3 linked regions of the Homo sapiens genome follow. The protein of the gene in region 1 purifies or fractionates together with the protein of each later gene. This does not show direct contact. Each region holds a gene or a part of one and is shown on either strand. Other genes may lie near its edges. The genes, in order: PCSK1, DCAF6 and ITIH2.

The links.
Region 2: the proteins of PCSK1 (region 1) and DCAF6 purify together in Homo sapiens (affinity purification with mass spectrometry; one large-scale study listed by BioGRID and IntAct). This does not show direct contact.
Region 3: the proteins of PCSK1 (region 1) and ITIH2 purify together in Homo sapiens (affinity purification with mass spectrometry; one large-scale study listed by BioGRID and IntAct). This does not show direct contact.

Annotation. Positions count from the first base shown.
Region 1 is NC_000005.10:96,389,721-96,392,587, reverse strand, and holds the end of PCSK1 (neuroendocrine convertase 1 isoform 1 preproprotein), read left to right. Parts: 3' UTR 1-2,255; downstream 2,256-2,867.
Region 2 is NC_000001.11:167,943,091-167,946,749, reverse strand, and holds part of DCAF6 (DDB1- and CUL4-associated factor 6), read right to left. Parts: intron 1-3,659. UniProt on the Homo sapiens protein: Ligand-dependent coactivator of nuclear receptors. Enhance transcriptional activity of the nuclear receptors NR3C1 and AR. May function as a substrate receptor for CUL4-DDB1 E3 ubiquitin-protein ligase complex.
Region 3 is NC_000010.11:7,727,167-7,730,825, forward strand, and holds part of ITIH2 (inter-alpha-trypsin inhibitor heavy chain H2 precursor), read left to right. Parts: intron 1-536; coding exon 537-662; intron 663-2,785; coding exon 2,786-2,967; intron 2,968-3,659. UniProt on the Homo sapiens protein: May act as a carrier of hyaluronan in serum or as a binding protein between hyaluronan and other matrix protein, including those on cell surfaces in tissues to regulate the localization, synthesis and degradation of hyaluronan which are essential to cells undergoing biological processes.

The sequences.
Region 1 (2,867 bases):
CCCTGTCTTGTCCATGTGGTTCTTCAAATTTTGATGCCAAGAAAGTATTTGGTAGGCCTAATGAAGGAGTTCACTGTAAGACTCATTCCCTAGATCTTTCTATTCCAAAGTGCCACTCATTCCTGTAGTCAAAATCTGGTCATGTTGGTCAAAAGCTGGATTATTTAGATCTAGAAACAGATCTTGAAATCTGAATGCTCTGGTTTGAGCAATTTTCGAACATTCTTTGCCTGGTGCACTGTGTCTGTGGTGCCAGAGGCGTCCGTGGATCCAGAGGTGGTTATGACTCGTGCTGCATGCCTGGTCTTTCCTCTGTTTCTCCTTCTGAAAGTTTTCTATACCTGTCTCCTTTCTCAGCCACAAAATAAATGTTGGGAGAAATGATATATACCACTTTCCCAGAAAAAAAAAAACTTACACTTGGGACTTGGCAAATTCCTAGTCACAATTTTTTTCAGCAGTAACAGGAAACCACTTATCACATGGAGACCTAATGTAATAATAGAAAAATACTCATAATAGGGAGAAACCAAGAGAAGTTTTGTTTTTGTTTTTTTCCAACTGTGTTCATTAGAACAGCGTGTTCTAAGTATTTGAAACTGAATGTTTATTCCTTGATACTAAAAGTTCTTCTCCAATCCTATCACTGATAGTGTCCAAATTCTCACCAAATTGCTCCTAAGCTTCAAATCAGAAGCAGAAACTGGCAGGCCATGGACCTTAATTGTCCCTCAGGTAGATTTTGTTTGGTATGCAGAATGTTTTTAAAATATGAGTGGTTATTGAAAATATGATGTTTCACATAAAACCTCATTCTCGGACCCATCTTTGCTCATGGCAACAGTTAGCTGGAGCTGAGTAGCAGCTGCCTGATTAGATGACTCTCAGTCCCCATGGCACCCTGCTCCATGTTACCTAGAGCAGGCACTTGATTCCTTGCTGGGCAGTATCCAATAGGCATTTGATTTTGCCCACTCCTACACTAAGCGAATGTGTACAAAGTGTAAATGCATTAGGAAAAACAAACTACCCGCATCTTCTGTTAGGCAGGATCTGTACAATAATAATTATGAGTTTGCTTATGTAATCTCACCTCACCTGGATGATCACTAATACTAATTCATTTATTACTAACCTTCTGGCTTCCTTCTCTCAATATGCTTACAAAGTCTCCAGTCACCTACAATGCTGGCTTTCTCCCACTGAGTTTGCTGTTTGCAATTTTTCCATGAAGTTTGAACTTCATAAGGTAATTCATGGCATTGAACTGGTTCATGAAAAGAACACTAGAGTCTGTCATTTGCTTTGGCTTGAAGTATGGTTGGTAACACAAATTTTCACCTGCTCTTCTACCATTTGAATTTGTGTAGAGGGTGTTTGCAGAGCAATGCCCGTAATGCTTAGAGAATGTTCTCCTAAAAGACTTGCGGAATCACTCTGTCCTTGGAAGTTTCATATATTGTTTGATATGAAGTGTTAGATAGAATTTCCAATATTGGAGCATATCAAAAAGTATTAAAACTAAAAAGGACCAGAGAATTCTTAGATTGGCCCGGAAAGGCCAATAAAGAGTTAGAATGAAAACTCATTACTTTTCCATTCCCAATCTAGTGCTAGATGTATAAATCTTTCTTTTGATTCTTCCTAACAAAATATTTTCTGGGTTAAAACCCCAGCCAACTCATTGGGTTGTAGCCAAAGGTTCACTCTCAAGAAGCTTTAATATTTAAATAAAATCATATTGAATGTTTCCAACCTGGAGTATAATATTCAGATATAAAACAGTTTTGTCAGTCTTTCTTAGTGCCTGTGTGGATTTTTGTGAAAATGTCAAAGAGAAAACTTATATACTATTTCCCTTGAAATTTTAAACTATATTTTCTTTACAGGTATTTATAATATACCAATGCTTTTATCAAACAGAATTTTAAAGAGCATAATAAATTATATTAAAGAACCAAAAGTTTTCCTGAGAATAAGAAAGTTTCACCCAATAAAATATTTTTGAAAGGCATGTTCCTCTGTCAATGAAAAAAAGTACATGTATGTGTTGTGATATTAAAAGTGACATTTGTCTAATAGCCTAATACAACATGTAGCTGAGTTTAACATGTGTGGTCTTGGTATTCTTAAGGGAACTTCCACATTATACATTTGATGTATTGACCAGAATATGTAAAATATGCTTATAAATCAGAAAAATAAATTGTTTCTCACTAAGTCAAAAGAAAAAAAGCTCATGTTTCCACCACAAACAAGATCTCCCTCTTTTATTGTGTTTCCCAAATGGACTATACAAAAGAAAAGCTGACAGTTTACATTAAGGAGTTAATTCCTTTTTAGGAAATTGGGCTTTCTTGGAGTCAATTTAAGAATCTACCTGAACAAGGTATGTTTTATTTTCCTCTCTAGCCCATCCTTCACTTTCTTGACAACATGCAAAGCTGTATGACTGAGCCTTAACTGAAATGTTGAGAAATGAACAAACTATCTAAACTAAACTAAACAGACTTACTACATGTAAGAGAAATGATTCCCAACATTTCACCAAATAGGACTTAGTTTACAGGCTAGAGTAAAGCAGCTAAGTGTGAAATCCTTCCCAGAGGTTCTCTCATTAGAACCCTCAAAGTTCCAACTTTTTTTTTTTCTTTTGCTAGAGTCTCACTCTTTTGCCCGGACTACAGTGCAATGGCATGATCATGGCTCACTGCAGCCTCCACATCCCAGGCTCAAACGATCTTCCCACCTCAGCCTCCCTTGTAGCTGGGACTACAGGTGTGCACCGCCACACCCAGCTAATTTTTGTGTTTTTTGTAGGGACAGGTTTCGTCATGTTGCCCAGGCTGGTCTCAAACTTTTGGGCT
Region 2 (3,659 bases), on another chromosome or scaffold:
TCAAAAAGATAATACACCATGATCAAGTGGGTTTTATACCAGGAATGCAAGGATAGGTCAACATATGCAAATCAATAAATGTGATACATCATATCAACAGAATGAAGGGCAAAAACCATATGATCATCTTAATAGACGCGAAAAAAGAATTTAATAAAATTCAACATCCCTTCATAAGAAAAACCCTTAGTAAACTAGGCACAGAAAGATCATACCTCAAAATAATAAAGGCCATATATGATAAACCTGTAACTAACATCATACTGAATAGGGAAAAGATGAAAGCATTCCTTTAAGAACTGGAAGAAAACAAGGATGCCTACTTTCACCACTCTTCAATATAGTATTGGAAGTCCTAACCAGAGCAATCAGGCAAGAGAATGAAACAAAAGGCATCAAAATTATAAAGGAAGGAGTCAAATTATCCCTGTTTCCTGATGATATGATCTTATATCTAGAAAAACCTAAAGACTCCCCACAAAAACTCTTAGATTTGCCAGGCGCGGTAGCTCATGCCTGTAATCCCAGCACTTTGGGAGGCTGAGGTGGCCAGATCACCTGAGGTCAGTAGTTCAAGACCAGCTGGCCAACATGGTGAAACCCTGTCTCTACTAAAACTACAAAAATTAGCCGGGTGTGGTGGCACATGCCTGTAATCCCAGCTACTCGGGAGGCTGAGGCAGGAGAATCACTTGAACCCGGGAGGCAGAGCTTGCAGTGAGCTGAGATTGTGCCATTGCACTCCAGCCTGGGCAACAGAATGAAATTCTGTCTCAAAAAAAAAAAAAAAAAAACCCTTAGATTTGGTAAATGAATTCAGTAAACTTGCAAGATACAAAATCAACATACAAAAATTAGTAGTGTTTCTACACACCAATAATGATTCAAAATGAAAACCAAATCAAGAACACAATCCCATTTACAATAGCTACAAATAACAAAAAAAAAAAGGCCGGGTGTGGTGGCTCACGCCTGTAATCCCAGCACTTTGGGAGGCCAAGGTGGGTGGATCACAAGGTCAAGAGATCGAGACCATCCTGGCCAACATGGTGAAACCCTGTCTCTACTAAAAATACACACACACACAAAAATTAGCTGGGCATAGTGGTGCGCACTTGTAGTCCCAGCTACTCTGGAGGCTCAGGCAGGAGAAGTGCTTGAACCTGGGAGCCGGAGGTTGTAGTAAGCCGAGATTGTGCCACTGCACTCCAGCCTGGGTGACAGAGTGAGACTCCGTCTCAAAAAAGAAAAAAAGAAAAAAGAAATTATAAACACACACATACACACACACACAAACTAGGAATATATTTAACCAGAGGTAAAATCCCTACAAGGAGAACTACAAAACACAGCTAAAAGAAATTATACATGACACAAATGGAAAAACATCCCATGATCACTGGATATTCAGAAGAATATCATTAAAATGACCATACTGTACAAAGCAGCCTACATATTCTATACAATCCCTATCAAAATACCAAGTTAATTTTTTGCAAAATTAGAAAAAACAATCCTAAAATTCATATGGAACCAAAAAGAAGCCCCAATAGCCAAAGCAATGCTGAGCAAAAAGAATAAAGCTAGAGGCATCACATTATCTAACTTCAAATTATATTACAAGACTATACTAACCAGAACAGCAGGTTACTGGTATAAAAATAAGACACACAGGTCAATGGAACAGCATAGAGAACCCAGAAATAAAGCCGCATACTTGCAGCCAACTGATGTTTGACAAAGCCGACAAGAACATACACTGTGGAAACGAAACCCTCTTCAATCAATGGTGCTGAGAAAATTAGATATCCATATGCAGAAGAATGCAATTGAACTCTTATCTCTCACTAATACATAAAAATCAACTCAAGGTGGATTAAAGACTTAAGTGTAAGACCCAAAACTATAAAGATACTAGAAAACAGACAAATGGGACTCAATTAAACTAAAAAGCTTCTGCATGGCAAAAGAAATAACAGATTGAAGAGACAACCAATCCTGTTGAATGACAGAAAATATCTGCAAATTATTCATCCAACAGGGGACTAATATCCAGACTACACAAGGAACTCAAACGATTCAACAACCAAAAAAATCTAACAATCCTATTAAAAAGTAGGCAAAACACATGAATAGACATTTTTCAAAAGCATACACCCAACAGGTATATGAAAAAATGCTCAACATTACCAGTCATAAGAGAAATGCAAATCAAATTCACAATGAGATATCACCTTATCCTAGTCAGAATGTCTTTTATTAAAAAGACAGACAATGTTGGTTATCATGTGAAAAAAAGGGAACTCTTATATACCATTGGTGGGAATGTAAATTAGTACAGCCTCTATGGAAAACAGTATGGAGATTTCTCCAAGAATTAAAAATAGAACTATCTTTCCATCTAGCAATCCCACTACTAGATTTTTACAAAAAGAAAAGAAATTAATATATCTAAAAGATATGTGCACCAGTATGTTTACTGCAGCACTATTCACAACAGCAAAGATATGGAATCAACCTAAGTGTCCATCAATGGATGAACAGGTAAAGAAAATGTGGTATATATACACAATGGAATACTATTCAGCCATAACAAAGAATGAAATCAGGCTGGGCGTGGTGGCTCACCCCTGTGATCCCAGCACTTTGGGAGGCCGAGGCGGGCAGATCACAAGGTCGGGGGATCGAGGCCATCCTGGCTAACACTGTGAAACCCTGTCTCTACTGAAAATACAAAAAAAAAGTTAGTCAGGTGTGGTGGCGGGCACCTGTAGTCCCAACTACTTGGGAGGCTGAGGCAGGAGAATGGCGTGAACCTCGGAGGCGGAACTTGCAGTAAGCCGAGATCTCACCACTGCACTACAGCCTGGGCGACAGAGTGAGACTCCATCTCAAAAAAAAAATGAATGAAATCATGACATATACAGCAACGTGGATGGAACTAGAGGTCATTATCTTAGGTTAAACAAACCAGGCACACAAAGACAAGTATGATGTTCTGACTCATAAGTGTGTTCTAAACAAACGTGTTCACACAGATGCAGAGTGGAATGATACATAATGGAGTGGAAGAATGAGGAGGTGGGAGGATGATGAGAAATTCGTTAATGAGGACAAAGAACGTTATTCAGGTGATGGATACCTTAAAAGCCCTCACTTGACTGCAGCATAATCTATGCATGTAACAAAACTGCATATGTACCCATAAATTTGTACAAATAAAAAGTAAAAATAAATAAAAATATCATCTAAAATAGCATTACAAATATGAAATATTTAAGGATAAACCTAACACCAAAAAATACAAATCACTGCTGAGAGAATCAAAGAATGCTTAATACACGGAGACAAACCAGAACCACAGATGAGAAGATTCATATTGTAAACATGTCAGTTCTCCCTGAAATAATATATAGATTCAACACAAAATCCCAAGTCTTTTTGTAGAAATTGACAAGCTAGTTCTAAAATTTTTATGGAAATAGAAAGGGTTCAGAATAGCCAGGATAACTATAAATTTTTTTAAAAAAGACCAAATTTCGGCCAGGCGCGGTGGCTCACGCCTGTAATCCCAGCACTTTGGTAGGCCAAGGCGGGCAGATCACAAGGTCAGGAGATCGAGACCATCCTGGCTAACGCGGTGAAACCCCATCTCTACT
Region 3 (3,659 bases), on another chromosome or scaffold:
ATCATGATTCACTTAAGAAGCATTATTCCCATCACAGTGGTCTTTCCCCAGCATTCGAGGGCCTATCTTAAATAATACATTTATTGGTAATGGATGAATGCTAAGTTTGTAGTGAAAGTAGAATTTGTAATACAGCCCACATAAGCTTTGAACCGTTTTAATGTCTCTCAGAAAAAGGTTCAGTGACACTGGCCTTCTTTATTGCCTGCATAAAGCATAAAATGTTACTATCTTCAGAGTATCTTGGCAAGGCTGATTTGGATACTTTAATCTGGTGTTTAACAAGCTAACAGTCTGTGCTTTGAAAGGGCTAGTTCATCTCTAAGGGGATAGTTTATTTCAAAGTGAATATTTCACTGCACTGGGGGACCACCAGCTTGAGCACAGTTTGTGTCACTCAGAAAGCAATGAAATGATTTTGGCATGGAATAAGTGATGGATAAGTGATCAGCCGACATATGAGTCTGAATCCAGAATGGGATTTTCTGCGTGTGGCGAGAACGCATACCCAACGTTTCATTATGCTACTTCAACAGGCACAAACATCAACGAAGCACTCCTACGGGCAATCTTCATTTTGAATGAAGCCAATAACTTGGGACTGTTAGACCCCAACTCCGTCTCGCTGATCATTTTGGTTTCTGATGGAGATCCAACAGTGGGCAAGTGTCACTTCAACCTTCTCACGACAAACACTTTCACTGTTGTTTCTTGGAATGGTGGTTTGCCTAAAAGGGGAACTCTAATGGCATTTGCCTGAGTTTCTAGAACATTTTAAACCCATGCTTCCTAAAGGAGGTCTTCTGATCCTGCAGCCCTCACCCCTTAAGCTACTGCTCAGACACTTTCAGCAAGGGCGCTCTTGAATGCCTCAGTTCCACCTCCACAATATGCAGAAATCTGAGTCTGAATTTTAATAGTATGTTGTGAGGATTGCTGATGCATTCTAGGGAAATGCATCTATTTCCTCAACTTGAGGTATGTGAAGATGGTGTATGGGGGTGGTGAATGATGAGTATTGATCCCAGATCTCCCAGCAGTACCTTTGGAGGCCACAGTAGCATATTCCCTATTATTCTCCACACTTCTCCCGGTTGCACCTGGAGAAATGACTGCTCTCTGACACAACCTTGAAGTTAAACATTTTTCTTTCTACAAAATGGGCAGCAACATCTCCCTACTTCTATTATTTATTTTTATTTTTGTTACATTAGTTTATTTTATTTATTTTTGAAGACAGGGTCTTGCTCTGTCACCCAGGAGGGAGTGCAGTGGAGCACACACAGCTCACTGCAGCCTCAACCTCCCATGCTCAAGTGATCCTCCTACCTCAGCCTCCTGAGTAGCTGGGACTACAGGTGTGCACCACCACACTCAGCTAATTTCTTTTTTTTCTTTCTTTTTTTTTTTGGAGAGACGAAGTCTCACTATGTTGCTCAGGCTGATCTCAAAATCCTGGGCTCAAGCAGTCCTCCCACCTCGGACTCCCAAAATGTTGAGATTACAGGTGTGAGCCACTGTGCCAAGCTATCTTTGTTTTACTTGTGTCTTTATTCTGGCCACTGTAAGTAATAGCGAATGCCAGATTGTGTTGCCTGAGTGTGCTGTCGTACAGACTAGGACCGAGTCTAACACGTCCTGACACAGCCAAGCAGAATGAAAATGCACGAGGCAAAAACAATGGCAGTCAGAGCTTTAGAAAGCCAGAGAGCAACCATCTTATTAATAACGAGACTAGAATGAGCCAGTGTTATGTATTTGTTGTAGAGCCAATGTTTTCTCCCTCAGATCAGATTATTTTCAAAATTCAAGTTTTGAATGAAATCATAAGGTGGAAAAGGAAATATAGTTTAAAATATTAAACTTGCCAGGCATGGTGGCTCACACCTGTAATCCCAGCACTTTGGGAGGCTGAGGTGGGTGGATCACCTGAGGTCAGGAATTCAAGACCAGCCTGGCCAACATGGTGAAACCCCATCTCTACTAAAAATACAAAATTAGCCTGACAGGGCGGCGTGTGCCTGTAATCCCAGCTATTCGGGAGGCTGAGACAGGAGAATCCCTTGAACCCAGGAGGCGGAGGTTGCAGTGAGCTGAGATCGTGCCACTGCACTCCAGCCTGGGCAACAAAGTGAGACTCTGTCTCAAAAAAAAAAACAAAATTAAACCATAATTTGGTTTAATCATGGTTTCTCACTCCTGTTTCTCAACCATTCAGTTCCTGTCCCTGGAATCAGTCACTGGTTACCAGTTTCTTGTGTATCTTTCCACAAATAGTTTATGCATGCCTGTATACTATATATACATGTTTGCACACATGTATGTGTATATGCATACATACACATACATACATTTATACATGCATGCATGCAAATGCATCCTAGGTACCCTGATATTTACCTTGTTTTTTTTTTCTCCTCTAAACATGCCCTTGAGATTGTCTGGTATACATACATAAGGAGTTTCCATGTCCTTTTTAATAGCTGCATAGTATCTCACGGTTTAAATGTATCATCATCTAACCAAGCGCCCTCATTGGTGCATATTTATGTTGTTTCCAATATGTTGCTAATTCCCAAATAATGTTGCTATGCAACACAACCCACACTTCATTTCAACATGTACGAGTGCATCTCTAAGAAAAACTAGAAATTGAGTTACTGGGTCAAAAGGGAAATGCAGTTTTAATCTGGACACACTTTACTAAACTGCCCTCCCTGGATTTTCCAGAAAATTTATGATATTGCTTCTTCATTCCTTTCCTTTCGGACATCACCAACTTTAGGCGAACTAAAACTGTCAAAAATTCAGAAAAACGTTAAGGAGAACATCCAAGACAATATCTCCTTGTTCAGTTTGGGCATGGGATTTGATGTGGACTATGATTTTTTGAAGAGACTGTCCAATGAAAACCATGGAATTGCACAAAGGATTTATGGAAACCAGGACACGTCTTCCCAGCTTAAGGTAACATTTTCTTCTGTTCTTTTTTTATTCTTCACTGGAAATCATTTAACTACCCATATCTGATGCAGGTATGATGCATAACTGAACTTAACTCAAAATGGTCATGATCTCAGCCATATTTGGTTGCAAGGATCAGGGAAGTGCCCAGTTCCTTTCTCACATGTTTCCCCCCACCCTCATATTTCTGCAGTAACAGTGAGGTATGAGGCAGATGGGTGTTGGGAACAGCTGTCCTACCCCCTGAACAAAAAGGCCTTCTGAGCGTCATCAAAGCTCCTTGTAGCTCTCCTGCCCCACCAGCAATTGGTCTTCTTATCATCATGGCCAACCGTTTTCTCTTTAACGTGCATTGGCATCTTGGTATCAATTTTTCACAGTGTAAATTTTCTTAAGTATTAAGATACAGGCTGAGTGTGGTGGCTCATGCCTGTAATCCCAGCTCTTTGGAGGCCAAGGTGGGAGGATCACTCGAGCCCAGAGGTTTAAGGCCAGCTTGGGCAACATAGTGAGATCCATCTGTTCAACAGATAATTTTTTTAATTAAAATACATATATTGAAAAGACACAAACTACTTGTTTGTTTTGATTAAATAGATGAGAAAATGATGTAGGGAAAGAACATGTTTTTCCCTGCTCTTTGTCAGTACCAGGCATCGTATTTAAATTTGGGAACAAGTAAGAGATAAGATTCT